Linked DNA regions of Homo sapiens: region 1 is linked to region 2. A link means that fine-mapping ties the variant in region 2 to the expression of a gene that starts in the linked region. Tissue or cell type: whole blood. Region 2 holds a variant in brackets; the other region holds the start of a gene. All regions are shown on one strand. Distances are between the middles of the regions.

Region 1 (8,120 bases), 40 kb after region 2:
ACAGGCTGCTGGTGAGATCCCAGGCCTCACGGACATGACATTTCTAGATTATCTAAGCATACAATTCACTGCTCCTCAAATTGCATATTTACGTCAGTATTAAAAGCAGTGGCAGAGCCATTACTCAGCTGACTTCCCAAAAGCTGCAAGCCCCATAGGGACATGCGGGGGCCAGAGACATTAGCTGACATCAGGAAACATCTTGGCTCTTCGGGCCCCTGAAGTGGCTGAAGGTCTGCCCACCCCATTCCTCCCTAGTGACAGAGAGTCACTTAGCTGAGCCTTAGGTGACAGAAACAATTCAGCTCTTCTTGTATTTGCCATTCAGCTCATATGCACTTCTATACTGGCATCCTGGGCAACATGCCACAGGAAATGAACACTCACAGTATCCTCTCCTCATCAGCCACCCCACTAGATGCTACTAAAATAGGCTGTTCAGGCTCTGGGGGAGAAACAGCCAATCAGAGCTGCACAGTCAGGTTCTTCCACACCTGGAATGGGTGTCATCTCCTTTTTATTAAGAGATATCCCAGTATCTTCAAAAGGGAATGACAATATGTATTTTTTTGTTTAGAAAGAGGATTACTGTGAAACTACCTGTTTGTATCACAGCGACAAAAGGACTGAGTTCTATTCATTATCTCACCATGAAGGGCAGAAGCCTAGGCCTAAGTTGAACAGTCTGAACTGTGGTAGTGCAGTAAAGTTCTCAGCATACAGCTGTCTCTTGGCAACTGTGGGAGACTGGTTCCAGGACCTCCCTTGATACCAAAATCTGCATATGTTCCCATCTTCTATATAAATTGGCATAGTAACTGCATATAACCTACCTACACCCTCCTGTATACTTTGAATCATCTCTAGATTACTTAAAATACCTAGTACAATGTAAATGCTATGTAAATAGTTGTTATATTGTATTTTTAAATTTTGTTTTTTTTTTTATTGTTGTACTGGTTTTTTTTTTTTTGAGATGGAGTCTTGCTCTGTCACCCAGGCTGGGGTGCAGTGGCGCAATCTCGGCTCACTGCAACCTCCACCTCCCAGGTTCAAGCAATTCTCCTGCCTCAGCCTCCACAGTAGCTGGGACTATAAGCGCTCGCCACCACGCCTTGCTAATTTTTATATTTTTTAGTAGAGACGGGGTCTCAAACTCCTGGCCTCAAATGATCCACCTGCCTCAGCCTCCCAAAGTGCTGGGATTACAGGCATGAATCACCACACTGGGCCTATTTTTTATTTTTAAAAAATATTTTCCATTTGTGATTGGTTGAATCCATGGGTTTGGAACCCATAAATACAGAGAACCGATTGTATACACTCCTATTCTGTGAGGACAGAGGCAGCTTCCTATAAGATGCCTCTTGGAGTGACAGGTGCACACCCAGGTCCTTGAGCAACAACATCATCTGCATTATCTCCAAGATACTCAAGCTTAGGGGATAGATTGGCATGCCAGCAAATACAGAAGCCACAAGGAACACACCACTGGGAGAAGGGACAGAGAAGGTGTTTCCCACAATGTAAGAACCACTTCCACATGGGGGAGTCAAATAAGAAATAAGTGAGTACGCCAAGCCACACATTGTAAGCCAGCAGTCAGCATTCCCCAGAATTAACCAGCCCCACAGACATAGCCACAGGACTTACAGACAAGCATACTGAGCCTGCATATTGCAATGACTCTTGGACACATCTTTACTGAGAACTCACATCATCAATGTGATCCCAGCCCAGCTGTCTTCAGAAATAATAGAACCTAAAACACATCCTATAAACACACCTCTTGGCACTTAAACAGAGTTTTTACTATGTTGATTTCCATTCACTCAATTTTTTTTTCCTTCTATATGTTTCCTATATGTATCCTAATTCCCCATTAGTCTGGGGCTCATTGGGGGCAGAGACATTTCTTCCTCTGCATTGCACAAAAAAAACCACAGAATGAACACACTCAATAAACCATACTAAATGTTTCCCCTCACAGTTAAAATGTATCCGTACCTAATTACTCCATCCTCAGAATTCTCGGATCTAAAAATGCAACCACAGTCTCACATCCGCTGATGTGAAATATTTACATTCTTCCTCAAATTTGTTTTGCTCTAAAATCTTGGAATCACTTTCTTAATTCCTTGCCCAATGGATACTGGATATTCATATGGAAAAAGTATTTCTCCATATTTCAAAGTCTAGTTCTTGGTAGCAGTTTATTACAAGTGCCCAGGCTTCATGATTCATTTCCATGGGTTAGAACCCAGGGGCCTAAGTCACTAGCTCCAAACCTGTTTTGAGATATTTCAATTTTATTTAAAAGGCCCAAGAATCAGGGCTTTGCAAACAGATGTTGTTAGCTGTAATTCCGCTGACTTGACTCTCCCTCCTGCCATTGCTCATTGGTGGCTGCAAGCCCAGCAAGGTCTTTGCAAGCCCTGCAACCTATATACCACCCAGGCTGGGGTTGGCATACCCGCTTATTGCTGTAGCTCCCCCGAGAAAGGGAAGGACCTGTCTAGGGGAGAAAGGTCAGAGTCCGGAGGAGTCTGTGGCAGCACACATTCTTACCGCATCGAACTCCGCTTGATCATCCTCAGGTAGGTCGCTAGTTTCATAAACATCTGGCTCATTCCTGGCCTGCAGGTAGAAGCAGTGACCACCCAACCTCACTACCCAGCATCCAACAACACCCCTTCCCCCACTCCATTTGAATAAGCTAACAGAGAAGGCGGGGTGTGATGTCAGGGTTCTGTCCTTTCTCCTCCACCTGCCCCGTGAGTCAACAGTATGTCAGTTCCCATGTCTCAAGGGGTAGGGATGACAGCGGAAACAATTGGGACCTGACAGTAAACGGTGAGTGTAAGTGATAGCAACGATGTTACCCTAAATCTAGAGGCGGGCAGGTCCTTGGCAATCACTATTGCCAAAGAAGGTGAAGGCTATCCTCCAATTAGGCCCCGTACACCACCACCCTGGCACAAGGATTGAGAGTGACTCAGGACCTTAGTACTCAAGGTCCTGTGTCCCAACCCTCACCTTGAGAAGCAGGCAGGGCAGCACAAAAGGAAGGTACACGCCAGGATTGTCATGGGAGTGGGGGCTGGGGGAGGGCATAGGTTCCCTCAAGGATAGAGCTCCCCATCTGGCACAAGAGGGTTCTGCCAGATGGCAGAACCTCTTCCTTGGCAGGATGAAGGCCATCGTTAAGTGGTCTGGTGTGTGTGTCTGGGGTAGCGATGGGGTCTTATGGAGAGATTTGGGGGGGACATGGGAGGCGTTGACACGGATGGTGGAAAAACTCAGGCACAAGAGGTCAGTACCCGGAGTCGATTTCTGGGCCGAGCTACCGGCGACTGCCGGAAAGGGGGCCTGGTGCGCCGTCCGGCGGCCCGGCCCAGTCGGGTCAGAAGAGTTCGGGGGGTGCTGAGGCCGATCGGAGAACGAGCGGCGGGAGCCCTTGGGCGGAGGATGGGCTGCAGGCGGGAGGGGTCGCGGGCTGGTTTCTGCTGGGGGTCCTTGGGAGGTCGGGGGCGCGGTCCTGGGGAGCCGGGGCCGGTCCTGTACTCACAATGCCGGGAAGGTCGGCGTATTTAGGGTCCGCCATGGCGGCGGCGAGACGGGCTGGGGGACCCGGGCCTCGGTGGAGCCGGGGCCGGTGTTCGGGTAGGGGAGAGGCTGGGTTCGGGTCCCGGGCTAAGGCGGCGGCAAAGGGAGCGGCAGATGAGCAGGAAGTCTCGCGACAGCAGTAGCACAGCAGAAGGGTAAAGCAAAAGTCGCGAGAACAGCCCTGCTGCCACACCCCTGGAGAGGCCGGGATTGGGGAGAACGAGGCCAGGGAATGAGGTAATGGCCAGGGGACGCCGCCTAGGATTGTGGGATGTGTAGTTTTGGTGTACTGGAGCTTGGGCGGGGAGCGACAATAACGAACCTTGGGGAGCTATTTCATACAGCCTTTTCTCTCACTTTTACAGCAAGTCAGTGAAAGAACATTTATAATTCCTGTTTGGGGCTCCCAGGAATAAAATGACTAGATTAAATGATACAGGTAGTCATACTGTGACACAGCCGGGGTTTCAAAAACAAGAAGTTTGCTTGATACTGTGTATTATAAAAACAAAATAAAAACAAGAAGTAAAATTTAGTAAACGCGTAGTGTATGTTAGGAATGAAAAAGTTAGGCAATCTTCTCAAGTAAGGGCTTTCAGATAATTTGAATTTCAGATAATAAGTAGGTGTGTGTGTGTGGTGTGTGGTGTGTGGGTATACTAACCCCCCAAAAATTAAGTATCTGAAATTCACATTTAACTGGGCATCCTGTTTTTGTTTTTTGTTTTTCAAATCTGGCAATTCTATCTGAAGTTCATAAGTAGGTAAGTGGTGTCTCCATGTCTGTCTGAACACTCTCTGGGCTCTTAACTACTTCGTTAATAGTTCTCAGACTTTTATTTATTTTTCAATTTTTTCAATTTTGTGGGTACACAGTAGGTGTATGTATTTATGGGACACATGAGATATTTTGATACAGGCATGCAATGTGAAATAAGCACATCATGGAGAAGAGGGTATCCATCCTCTCAAGCATTTATCCTTTAAGTTACAAATAATCCAATTACTCTTTAAGTTATTTTAAAATGTACAGTTGAGTTATTCTTGACTATAGTCACCCTATTGTGCCATCAAATAGTAGGTCTTATTATACTTTCTAATTTTTTGTACCTATTCACCAACCTTACCTTCCGTTCTCAGACTTTTAAATTTCATCGTTCAATAAAATTAAAACAACTACAAACCTTGAAGATTTGCCTTTTTATTTTATCAAGTAAGTATATTACAAATAGAAAACCTATTATTTACTGTCACCATCATTACTTGGTAGAAAAGCAAGAAGGACACACTCAGAATAAAAGATAGTCCTTTGAAACTTATCAAATCCATCTTTATATTAAAAAAAAACTCACCATTGTTCTTTTGGAGGTGAGGGCATACTCAGTGAACTTTTGTCTCTGACCAGTGACCCTCCATGGACTGGCATTTTGAAACCCCTTTACTAAAGATGCCACCTTGGAGCCCCTGGGGACCCAAGGATGGGATGTTTCCCAGGATGTTTCCTGAGCTTGCAGGATGCTGCAACACTTAGAAATTGTGCCAAACCAAGTGACTAGAGAGTTCCTGAGTTCGGAACTCGTTGTCTTTCTTTCTCCTGGCTCCTCCCCAAGCCTCTATCCCTTTCTCCATAGTCCTACAGCTTTCCTGTCCCATTCCTTATGTTGGACTCTTTTCTTTCAGTTCCCTTAAGATTCAAGGTAGGTTAGAGGTGTAGCCCCAATGTGGGAAACCCCCTGAGTTCTGAATAGTTAGGTCTTGTCTGGCCAGGCTATCAGCCTCTTACTTTTGTCCCATAGTGTCTTAAGTGACCTTAACCACTCACCAGACAGTTGCTGAGCAGAACTTTCCTTTCCTCCTCCTTCTCCCATCCACCCTGCCCTTCCTCTTTGCCTAGAACCTCAACTCCTGCAGTCCAACTCTCTGTTGGCCAGCAGAGGCCTGTGACATGGAGAAAAATCAATTTGGCCAGCTTCTTGGTGGTTCTTTCCAGGGGCTGCAGCAGGAGTCTGACCCAAAGGAAGGAAGGACAAGGAATCTCTGGGCTTGGCATTTCTTTCGTTTTTCTTCCCCCACACCTTTTTTTTTTTGGCCAGGGAAGGGGGCTGAAGTATTGGGACTCTATCCTCCAATGGTTACTGAGACAGAAAACACACACTCCCGTAGGTATCTGAATTTGCCTGAAACCCAAATGCCGGCTTTGCCTCAGACTTCAAAGTCTCTCTGGCCTTACCCATCCCCATCATTGCCCCTCCTTCACTGCTTTCTGACTCCCTTTCTCTTGCAAAGATGTTTCCCACCCATCTTCCTCCCATCCTCAGCCTAGGACACAAAAATAAGTATTGTATCTGCTTTTGAATTCCCATAACCCAGAATGGGAGTTTATCTTCCCTGAAACTGGGGACCTGGTGTGTACGTTGGGGAGACAGTATAGTGCACCTTTGGATGTGGAAGGGGAAGGGAGTAGCCAGAACCTCCCACGACACCCAACTTCATAGGAGTACAGGCAGGGGTCCCCCCAGAAAGCTGAGTGGGTTGGGAGTCCAGCTTCCGTGCATGTGGGGCATGGGATGGGCGTAGGGGGAGAATGAGAAGTGTGATCCCAGTTTGGAGAGAGGACTGTGACGGGTTGGGGGATGCCCTGGAATAAAGGGAGAGGGAGATCTGTTGACCCTTTTCGCTACACAGGCGACAGGCCCACCTCAGTCCCCTTATCCCTTCCAGGGGGTGGAGTCTGAGGGAGGGACAAACAGGTCGGGGGTATAGGGGTGGGATGCAGTGAGTTGGGTGGGGAAGGGTCGAGGGCAAGGTTATCTCCGAACGTTAGGGGTGGGGGAGGGAGGAGAGGAGCGGTGAGGTTCCACCCTTCGGGGGTCGACGTCGAGCCAGCGTCCCCAGTGGAGGGAGCCCCGCCCCCGCTCCTCCATCGCGGCCCCGCCCAGGCCCGCAGCGCGGCGCTGCAGCGCGAGGGGCGGAGAGGCAGAGAGCCCGAAAGGACCAGACGCCCAGGTCGCCCGCATCCCGCTGCCGCAGGAGAGAGACAGCGCGCCCCGGCCCTGCTCCCCAGGCTTCGCCCGGGCGCCCTCAACTCTGTCCCCAGAGACTGAGCACCTGTCCTCCGCCTCGGCCTCTGCTGAGAGCCCTCTCCTCTGGAGCACACACCACCCCTGCAGCCCAAGAAGAGTCCCAGCCCCACGCCGGCTACCACCATGGCGGAGACCAACAACGAATGTAGCATCAAGGTGCTCTGCCGATTCCGGCCCCTGAACCAGGCTGAGATTCTGCGGGGAGACAAGTTCATCCCCATTTTCCAAGGGGACGACAGCGTCGTTATTGGGGTGAGTGTCGCCCAGGAGGGAATTCGGGGAGGGGGCAGGTGGCTGAATCTCCCCGCCCCCCGCAGAGCCTTAGTCTCTGCTGGTCCCTTTGCTCCCCCTCCCCGCCGCTCATCCTTCATCCTCTTCCCCGCAGCCCCTCCTCTCCCCTGCATCAGGATGGCTGGGTGTGGCCTGGCCAGGCCAGCGGCCGAGTCTCTGCAGAGTGGCAGGGGGCTGCTTTCCTACCTTCGGGAGATCCAACTCCCCTTTGCTGCTGTCTGCAGCGTCTCCACCCGTTAGAACCAGTCCCATGTTTTTCTGATGTTTTCCCCTTCTCCACCACCCGCTCCCCAAGAGAAAGCGCATCTTCCCTTTGTTATTGGCTCAGATCTCTACCCCCACCTCCCGGAAGGTAAGGCGGAAGACTTTTGGGTGGATTAGATGGGAGGTGAGCAGTCCAGGGTCTCTGCAGAGTGTGGATGGAAGTGGGCTCTAAGACCAAACCTTCCATCATTCCCTAAAGTAGTTATAGCCTGGATTTTTGTGTGTGTGTTGTGGGGAGTAGGTCTGATGCAGGGTTTACTGGGAAAGAAATCATTGATGCCACACCCAATCTTGGGGGGAGCCTCTGGAATCCTAAGGTCAGGTCTGCCTTTTGGTCCCAGGTACAGTAGGAAGAGGGTTTCAGATTCCCCAACTGACCCCCCTAAAGAAAAATGCCCAAACCCTGAGATCCTAGTCAGTACCTGCTTATTCATCCTTTCTCTTGAGGATCCAATAGAAAGTAGCCATCCAGCTCTACCTCATCATGACAGCCCTACCCAAGGAGGATATCTTAAGGGAACTAATATTAACAGTGGGCCTGTTACTCTACGTATATTATTTAACCCCCAAAACAACATTCAGAAGTAGTATCAATATTTCCATTTTACAGATGCAGAAATTGAGGCCCAAAGAACTTGAATAACTTTCTCAAGGTCATGCTATTCATCCATGGATCTGAACCTAAATCTGTGACTGCAAACCTCCCATCTCTTCTATCACATTGCCTACCCAGGTTTCTGTTCTGCACCTTTATCTGTAATGGCCCAAAGGGAAATTCTAGGCCTTGCCCACTCCCCCTGAGGTTGGTAGGGACCTCAGGCTGTGTGTGGGGAGAAAAGATCTGGGGTCGAGTCCTGTAGGGCTTGAGGGGTGCTG
Region 2 (8,000 bases):
CAAGTACAGTGCAGTGCTCTGTACCTAGCCTATGTTCAGAGAATGTTTTTTTTACTCTGGTGTGATGGGACAGAGATCTGAAACTCTGAGAACAAATGGAGTTATACTGAGAAGATTTGAGTCTCCATGTTTAGAGTAGGCCACATAGTAGAGTTATTGGAGTGTGAGCCTGAAGCTAAACTAGATGGCAGACTGAGGAGCTAATCCTTCTCTGCTCCTCCCCTTGCCTGGACCCCTCCCCTGGCCTGCAGGCCTGATCTGTCCTCTGGAATTTTCCTTCGCAGAAGCCTCAGTGTAAAGTCTGCCGATCATGCCCTGTGGTGCAGTCGAGCCAGCACCTGTTTCTGGACCTGCCTAAGGTAAGTGAGCTTTTCTCTCAACCTAGTTTTCAGGAGGCCTCTTCTGTCCCCTCTGCCTTAGCCACAAATACTGAGAGCAGATTACTCTTAAAAGTTTTAAATTTCCATTAAGAATTGTACATACTATTGTCAAGAGATGAAATAGATTAAAGGGCACAAAGTGAAAGCCCCAGGCCCACTTGCGAGAGGTATTTACTACTTTTTCCTTTGTGTCTATTCAGAAATGTCATATGCATATAAAAGTATTTTTATGTCTCTCTTTTTTTTTAAGGGATAGCTTCTCACTCTGTCACCTAAGCTGGAATGCAGTGGCATGATCATAGCTCACTGCAGCCTTGATATCCTAGGACCAAGCAATCCTCTCACCTCAGCCTCCCAAGTACCATGCCTGACTGATTTTTTTTTTTTTTTTTTTTTTTTTGAGACAGAGTTTCGCTCTTGTCGCCCAGGCTGGTGTGCAATGGCGCACTCTTGGCTCACTGCAACCTTCGCCTCCTGGGTTCAAGTGATTCTCCTGCGTCAGCCTCCAGAATAGCTGGGATTACAGGCGTCTGCCACCATGCCCGGCTAATTTTTGTATTTTTAGTAGAGACAGGGTTTTGCCATGTTGACCAGGCTGGTCTCGAACTCCTGACCTCAGATGATCTGCCTGGCTCAGCCTCCCAAAGTGCTGGGATTACAGGTGTGAGCCACCGCACTGGGCCACCTGACTAATTTTTAAAATGCTTTTGTAGAGATGGGTTCTCACTGTGTTACCCAGGCTGGTGTCAAACTCTTGGGCTCAAGCAGTTCTCCTGCCTCTGCCTGCAAACGTGTTGGGATTAGAGGCATGAGCAACTGTGTCCAGCATTGACCTCCTGATTTGTTTTTTTTTTTTTTGAGATGGAGCTTCTCTCTTGTTGCCCACACTGGAGTGCAATGGCACGGTCTCGGCTCACTGCAACCTCTGCCTCCCAGGTTCAAGCGATTCCTCTGCATCAGCCTCCCAAGTAGCTGGGGTTACAGGTGCCTGCCACCATGCCTGGCTAATTTTTGTATTTTTAGTAGAGATGGGGTTTCACCATGTTGGCCAGGCTGGTCTCGAACTCCTGACCTCAGGTAATCCATCCACCTCGGCCTCCCAGTGTGCAGGGATTACAGGTGTGAGCCACCATCCCAGCCTGACCTCCTTTTTAAAATACAGTGTTCCTCCTTCTGTACCCTGGGCTTGGAGAAAAAAAAAAATAGGCTGGGCGCAGTGGCTTATCATGCCTGTAATCCTAGCACTTTAGGAGGCTGAGGTGGGAGGATCTCTTGATGCCAGGAGTTGGAGACCAGCCTGGAAAACATAGTGAGACACTGTCTTTACAACATAATTGAAAAATTAGCCGGGTATGGTGGTGCGATCCTGTAGTCTCAGCTATGCAAGAGGCTGAGGTGGGAGGATCATTTGAGCCCAGGAGTTTGAGGTTACAGTGAGCTGTGATTGTGCCACTATACTCCAGCCTGGGCAACAGAGTGAGACTCTATCTCTAAAGCATAAAAAAATTAAAGGCCACATGCAGTGACTCACTCCTGTAATTCCATTACTTTGGGAGGCTGAGGTGGGAGGATTGCTTGAGCCTAGGGGTTTGAGACCAGCCTGAGCAACATGGCAAGACCCTGACTCTACAAACAGTGAAACAATTAACCTGGCCTGGGTGCAGTGGCTCACGCGTTAATCCTAACATTTTGCAAGGGCTACCTAGGTGGGCCGATGACTTGAGCCTAGGACTTTGAGACCAGCCTGGGCAACATGGTGAGACCCCATCTCTACAAAAAATACAGAAGTTAACTGGGTGAGTTGTGAGCAGCTGTAGTCCCAGCTACTCAGGAGGCTGAGGTGGGAAGATCACCTGAACCTGGGAAGGTTTGAGGCTGCAGTGAGCCATGATTGAACCATTGCACTGCAGCTTGGGTGACAGACTGAGACTCTGTATCAAAAAGAAAAAAAGAAAAAATTAGCCAAATGTGGTGGTGCACATCTCTGGCCCCAGCTACTTGGGAGGCTAAGGTAGGAGGGTTGCTTTGAGCCCAGGAGCTGGAAGCTATAGTGAGCCATGATTGTACCACTGCATTCCAGTCTGGGCAGCAAAGTGAGACCCTGTCTCAAAAATAAATAAATACATAAAATATAATAGTCCTCAGGTTGGGTTTGTTGGGTGTTTCCTCATGATTTCAGGCTATGCATTCTTGGTTGGAATACTACATAAATGACATTGTGTCCTTTTCAGAGCCACGTGATGGCCATCCCCTTCACTGGGAATCTTAATTTTGTTTGGTCAGGTGTTATTCAATTTGTTCACTGTGTGATTAATATTTTCCCCATTGCAACTTATGAGCAGTCTGGGAATACACTTTATTTTTTTCTTTTCTTGAGATGGAGTCCCGCTCTGTTGCCCAGACTGTAGTGCAGTGTTGTGATTTCAGCTCACTGCAACCTCCACCTCCCAGGTTCAAGTGATTCTCCTGTCTCAGCCTTCGAGTAGCTGGGATTACAGGCACATACCACCATGCCTGGCTAATTTTTGTCTTTTTTTTTTTTTTTTTTTAATTGACCATTCTTGGGTGTTTCTCGCAGAGGGGGATTTGGCAGGGTCATAGGACAATAGTGGAGGGAAGGTCAGCAGATAAACAAGTGAACAAAGGTCTCTGGTTTTCCTAGGCAGAGGACCCTGCGGCCTTCCGCAGTGTTTGTGTCCCTGGGTACTTGAGATTAGGGAGTGGTGATGACTCTTAACGAGCATGCTGCCTTCAAGCATCTGTTTAACAAAGCACATCTTGCACCGCCCTTAATCCATTTAACCCTGAGTGGACACAGCACATGTTTCAGAGAGCACAGGGTTGGGGGTAAGGTTATAGATCAACAGCATCCCAAGGCAGAAGAATTTTTCTTAGTACAGAACAAAATGAAAAGTCTCCCATGTCTACCTCTTTCTACACAGACACGGCAACCATCCGATTTCTCAATCTTTTCCCCACCTTTCCCCCCTTTCTATTCCACAAAACCGCCATTGTCATCATGGCCCGTTCTCAATGAGCTGTTGGGTACACCTCCCAGACGGGGTGGTGGCCAGGCAGAGGGGCTCCTCACTTCCCAGTAGGGGTGGCCGGGCAGAGGCGCCCCTCACCTCCCGGACGGGGCGGCTGGCCGGGCGGGGGGCTGACCCCCCCCCCACCTCCCTCCTGCATGGGGCGGCTGGCCGGGCAGAGGGGCTCCTCACTTCCCAGTAGGGGCGGCCGGGCAGAGGCGCCCCTCACCTCCCGGACGGGGCGGCTGGCCGGGCGGGGGTCTGGCCCCCCACCTCCCTCCCGGACGGGGCGGCTGGCCGGGCGGGGGTCTGGCCCCCCACCTCCCTCCCGGACGGGACGGCTGGCCGGGCGGGGGTCTGGCCCCCCACCTCCCTCCCGGACGGGGCGGCTGGCCGGGCGGGGGCTGACCCCCCACCTCCCTCCCGGACGGGGCGGCTGGCCGGGCGGAGGCTGACCCCCACCTCCCTCCCGGACGGGGTGGCTGCCGGGCGGAGACGCTCCTCACTTCCCAGACGGGGTAGCTGCCGGGCGGAGGGGCTCCTCACTTCTCAGACGGGGCGGCTGCCGGGCGGAGGGGCTCCTCACTTCTCAGATGGGGCGGCTGCCGGGCGGAGGGTCTCCTCACTTCTCAGACGCGGCGGCCGGGCAGAGGCGCTCCTTACATCCCAGAAAGGGCGGCGGGGCAGAGGCGCTCCCCACATCTCAGACGATGGGCAGCCGGGCAGAGACACTCCTCACTTCCTAGATGGGATGGCAGCTGGGAAGAGGCGCTCCTCACTTCCTAGATGGGATGGCGGCCGGGCAGAGACACTCCTCACTTTCCAGACTGGGCAGCCAGGCAGAGGGGCTCCTCACATCCCAGACGATGGGTGGCCAGGCAGAGATGCTCCTCACTTCCCAGACTGGGTGGCGGCACGGCAGAGGCTGCAATCTCGGCACTTTGGGAGGCCAAGGCAGGCAGCTGGGAGGTGGAGGTTGTAGCGAGCCGAGATCACACCACTGCACTCCAGCCTGGGCACCATTGAGCACTGAGTGAACGAGACTCCGTCTGCAATCCCGGCACCTCGGGAGGCCGAGGCTGGCGGATCACTGGCGGTTAGGAGCTGGAGACCAGCCCGGCCAACACAGCGAAACCCCGTCTCTACCAAAAAAATACGAAAACCAGTCAGGCGTGGCGGCACGCGCCCGCAATCGCAGGCACTCGGCAGGCTGAGGCAGGA[G/T]AATCAGGCAGGGAGGTTGCAGTGAGCAGAGATGGCGGCAGTACAGTCCAGCTTCGGCTCGGCATCAGAGGGAGACCGTGGAAAGAGAGGGAGAGGGAGACCGTGGGGAGAGGTAGAGGTAGAGGTAGAGGTAGAGGGTAGAGGGTAGAGGGAGAGCATTTTTGTATTTCTAATAGAGATGGGGTTTCACTATGTTGGCCAGGCTGGTCTCAAACTTCTGACCTCAAATGATTCACCCGCCTTAGCCTCCCAAAGTGCTGGGATTACAGGTGTAAGCCACTGCGCCCAGCCTTGAGGGAATACACTTTAAAGACCATGCAATACTTTGCTCTTCGTGAACAAAATATTCCCTATAAATGTAGCATTCATTGATCATTCTTACCTGAATCAATCTTTATTATGGTGATTTTCCAACTCTACCACTACTCTCTATATTTATCCTTCTCCCTCCATTTATTTTTTAATTTAGTTAACTATTTATTATCAGTATAGACTCATGGATTCCTATTTTTTTCAATTTCTTATAATCCTTTCCTGTCCTAAATTTATTTTCATGTTCAAATTGTTACTTATTTCATCAGTAGGAACGTATTCAAGGTGGCTTGTCTGCTTTTGAGATCTCCCATCATGTTTTAAACACTTCCTTAATTTGTGGCATAAAAAAATACTCTAGGTTCATCTGGTTCAGCCTTGAAATCAACCATGTCACCAACCTTGAGTTTAATTTAGTAGGGAACAGTATTAGATACCAAAATCTAGGTGGTAGATGTGCTCATTGCTACTGGGTGTCTTTGCTACTAGGACCTTTTATCAAAGAGAGTTGGTATTTGTTTTTTGTTGTTTGTTTGTTTGTTTTGAGACAGGGTCTTGCTGTCACCTAGGCTGGAGTGCAGTGGCACTATCTTGGCTCACTGCAACTGCCATCTCCAGGATTCAAGCGATTCTCCTGCCTCAGCCTCCTGAGTAGCTGGGATTACAGGCACCTGCCACCACACCCAGCTAATTTTTTTTGTATTTTTAGTAGAGACAGGGTTTCACCATGTTGGCCAGGCTGGTCTCCAACTCCTGATCTCAGGTGATCTGCCTGCCTTGGCCTCCCGAAGTGCTGGGATTACAGGCGTGAGCCATCGTGCCTGGCCAGTTGGTATTTATTTTAAGTTCACACTGACACCTGCAATTTCAGTCCATCCCCACAGAGTTCTTCGTCACTTTCTCTTATTTATTTCATGTCTCTATCTACCTTCTTCCACTGTAGGTGTCCTGGTTCTCAATAGGCATCAGCACATTTACTTATTAGCTCAATCCTACAATATACCTAAAACAATTTCAGAATTGCTTTGCTGGTACGTCTACAAAAAAAATAACCTATTAAAAAGAGTTTAGGATTTGTTGGCAATCCTGATTCCTCCCCTAGACTAAGGGTATATAGCCAAGTGTGTTCAAACAAAATTTTTTTCTAGAGACAGGGTCTCACTCTGTCACCCAGGCTGGAGTGCAGTGGCACAATCACAGCTCACCGCACTCTCAAACTCTCGGGCTCAAGTTATCCTTTTGCTTCAGCCTTCTGCGTAGTTGGGACTACAGGCGTGTACTATCATGCCTGGCTGATTAAAAAAAAATTGACTAGGCATGGTGACTCACGCCTGTAATCCCAGCAGTTTGGGAGGCCAAGGCAGGCGGATCATGAGGTCAATAGACCGAGACCATCCTGGCCAACGTGGTGAAACCCCATCTCTACTAAAAATACAAAAATTAGCCAGGCGTGGTGGCACCGACCTGTAGTCCCAGCTACTCAGGAGGCTGAGGCAGGAGAATCGCTTGAACCTGGAGGTGGGGAGGTTGCAGTGAGCTGAGATCGTGCCACTGCACTCCAGCCCGGGCAGCTGAGCAAGACTCCAGCTCAAAAAAATTTTTTTTTGGTTGGGCATGCTGGTTTACACCTGTAATCCCAATGCTTTGGGAGGCCAAGGCTGGAGGATTGCTTGAGCCTTGGAGTTTAAGACCAGCCTGGGCAACAGAGTGACACCCTACCTTAAAAAAAAAAAAGAAAATTTTTTTTTTCTTTTTTGCACTTCCTCAGCTGGCCATGGTGGTTCATGCCTGTAATTCCAGCACTTTGGGAGGCTGAGGCAGGAGGATCGCTGGAAGCCAGGAGTTTGAGAGTAGCCTGGGCAACAAAGCAAGACCCTGTCTGTATTTAAAAAAAGAAAAAATTGGTTGGGCACGGTGGCTTATGCCTGTAATTCCAACTTCCAACACTTTGGGAGGCTGAGGCGGGAGAATTGCTTGACCCCAGGAGTTTGAGACCAGGGTGGGCAACTTGGTGAAACCCATCTCTACTAAAAATACAAAAATTAACCAGGTGTGGTGGCACGTGCCTGTAGTGCCAGCTACTCAGGAGGCTGAGGTGGAAGGATCACTTAAGCCTGGGAGGTTGAGGCTGCAGTGAGCCATGATGTGCCACTGTACTCCAGCCTGGGTGACAGTGAGACCCTGATATGGACAAGATTAGCACATCCTCTGCACAAGAATGACATGCAAACTTGTGAAGTGTTCCATATTTTTAAAAATTAAAAAAAAAAAAATTTTTTTTAGGGACAGGATTTTGCTGTGTTGCCCAGGATGGTCATGAACTCCTGCCCTCAAGTGATCCTCCTGCGTCAGCCTTCGGAGTAGCTGGGATTACAGGCGCAAGCCACTGCCCCTGGCTGTGTGTTAAAAATCTAGTTAAGGCTGGGCAGGGTGGCTCACAACTGTAGTCTCAGCGCTTTTGGAGGCTGAGGTGGGCAGATTGCTTGAGCTCAGGAGTTCAAGACCAGCCTGGGCAATGTGGCAAAACCCTGTTTCTACAAAAATTACAGTCTGGCATGGTGGTGTGCACCTGTGGTCCCAGCTACTGGGGAGGTTGAGGTAGGAGGATTGCTTGAGCCCAGGAGGTTTAGGCTGCAGTGAGCTGTGATTATGATTGCACCACTGCACTCTAGTCTGGGCAACAGAGCAAGACTCTGTCTCCAAAAAAAAAGTTATATATTGCCAAATTGTGCTCCAAAAAGGTTATATGTGTTTATCCTTATGCTAACCATATATGAGACTTTCCTAAATCAGCCCTCTTTCTCCGTTATCTCAGCTGGAGAAGCGACTGGAGGAGTGGTTGGGGAGGACATTGCCTGGCAGTGACTGGACACCCAATGCCCAGTTTATCACCCGTTCTTGGCTTCGGGATGGCCTCAAGCCACGCTGCATAACCCGAGACCTCAAATGGGGAACCCCTGTACCCTTAGAAGGTTTTGAAGACAAGGTAAAAACCCTTTTTTATTCATATCATTCAGCCTTAGTGTTGAAACCCTGGGCTAGCAGAGTAGACTGCTGA

What was found. PIP is the estimated chance that this variant, and not a neighbour inherited with it, causes the effect.
Region 1: DCTN2 starts here. The variant in region 2 is fine-mapped to the expression of DCTN2 in whole blood (TOPMed, PIP above 0.99).

Annotation. Positions count from the first base shown.
Region 1 is chr12:57,543,460-57,551,579 of GRCh38, forward strand. DCTN2 (dynactin subunit 2) reads right to left here and starts at 3,733. Exons shown (of 14, transcript NM_001261413.2): 1 at 3,569-3,733; 2 at 2,569-2,637. The coding sequence starts at 3,604. KIF5A (kinesin family member 5A) reads left to right here and starts at 6,585. Exons shown (of 29, transcript NM_004984.4): 1 at 6,585-6,941. The coding sequence starts at 6,813. RefSeq lists enhancers at 3,862-4,001, 6,920-7,512 and a silencer at 6,312-6,651.
Region 2 is chr12:57,503,941-57,511,940 of GRCh38, forward strand. MARS1 (methionyl-tRNA synthetase 1) reads left to right here. Exons shown (of 21, transcript NM_004990.4): 11 at 285-359; 12 at 7,758-7,928. It also overlaps the pseudogene LOC124903093. Among named protein-coding and RNA genes, the nearest start is that of MIR6758, 4.7 kb to the right of the region's middle. The variant G/T (reference allele first, on the strand shown) is at 4,631.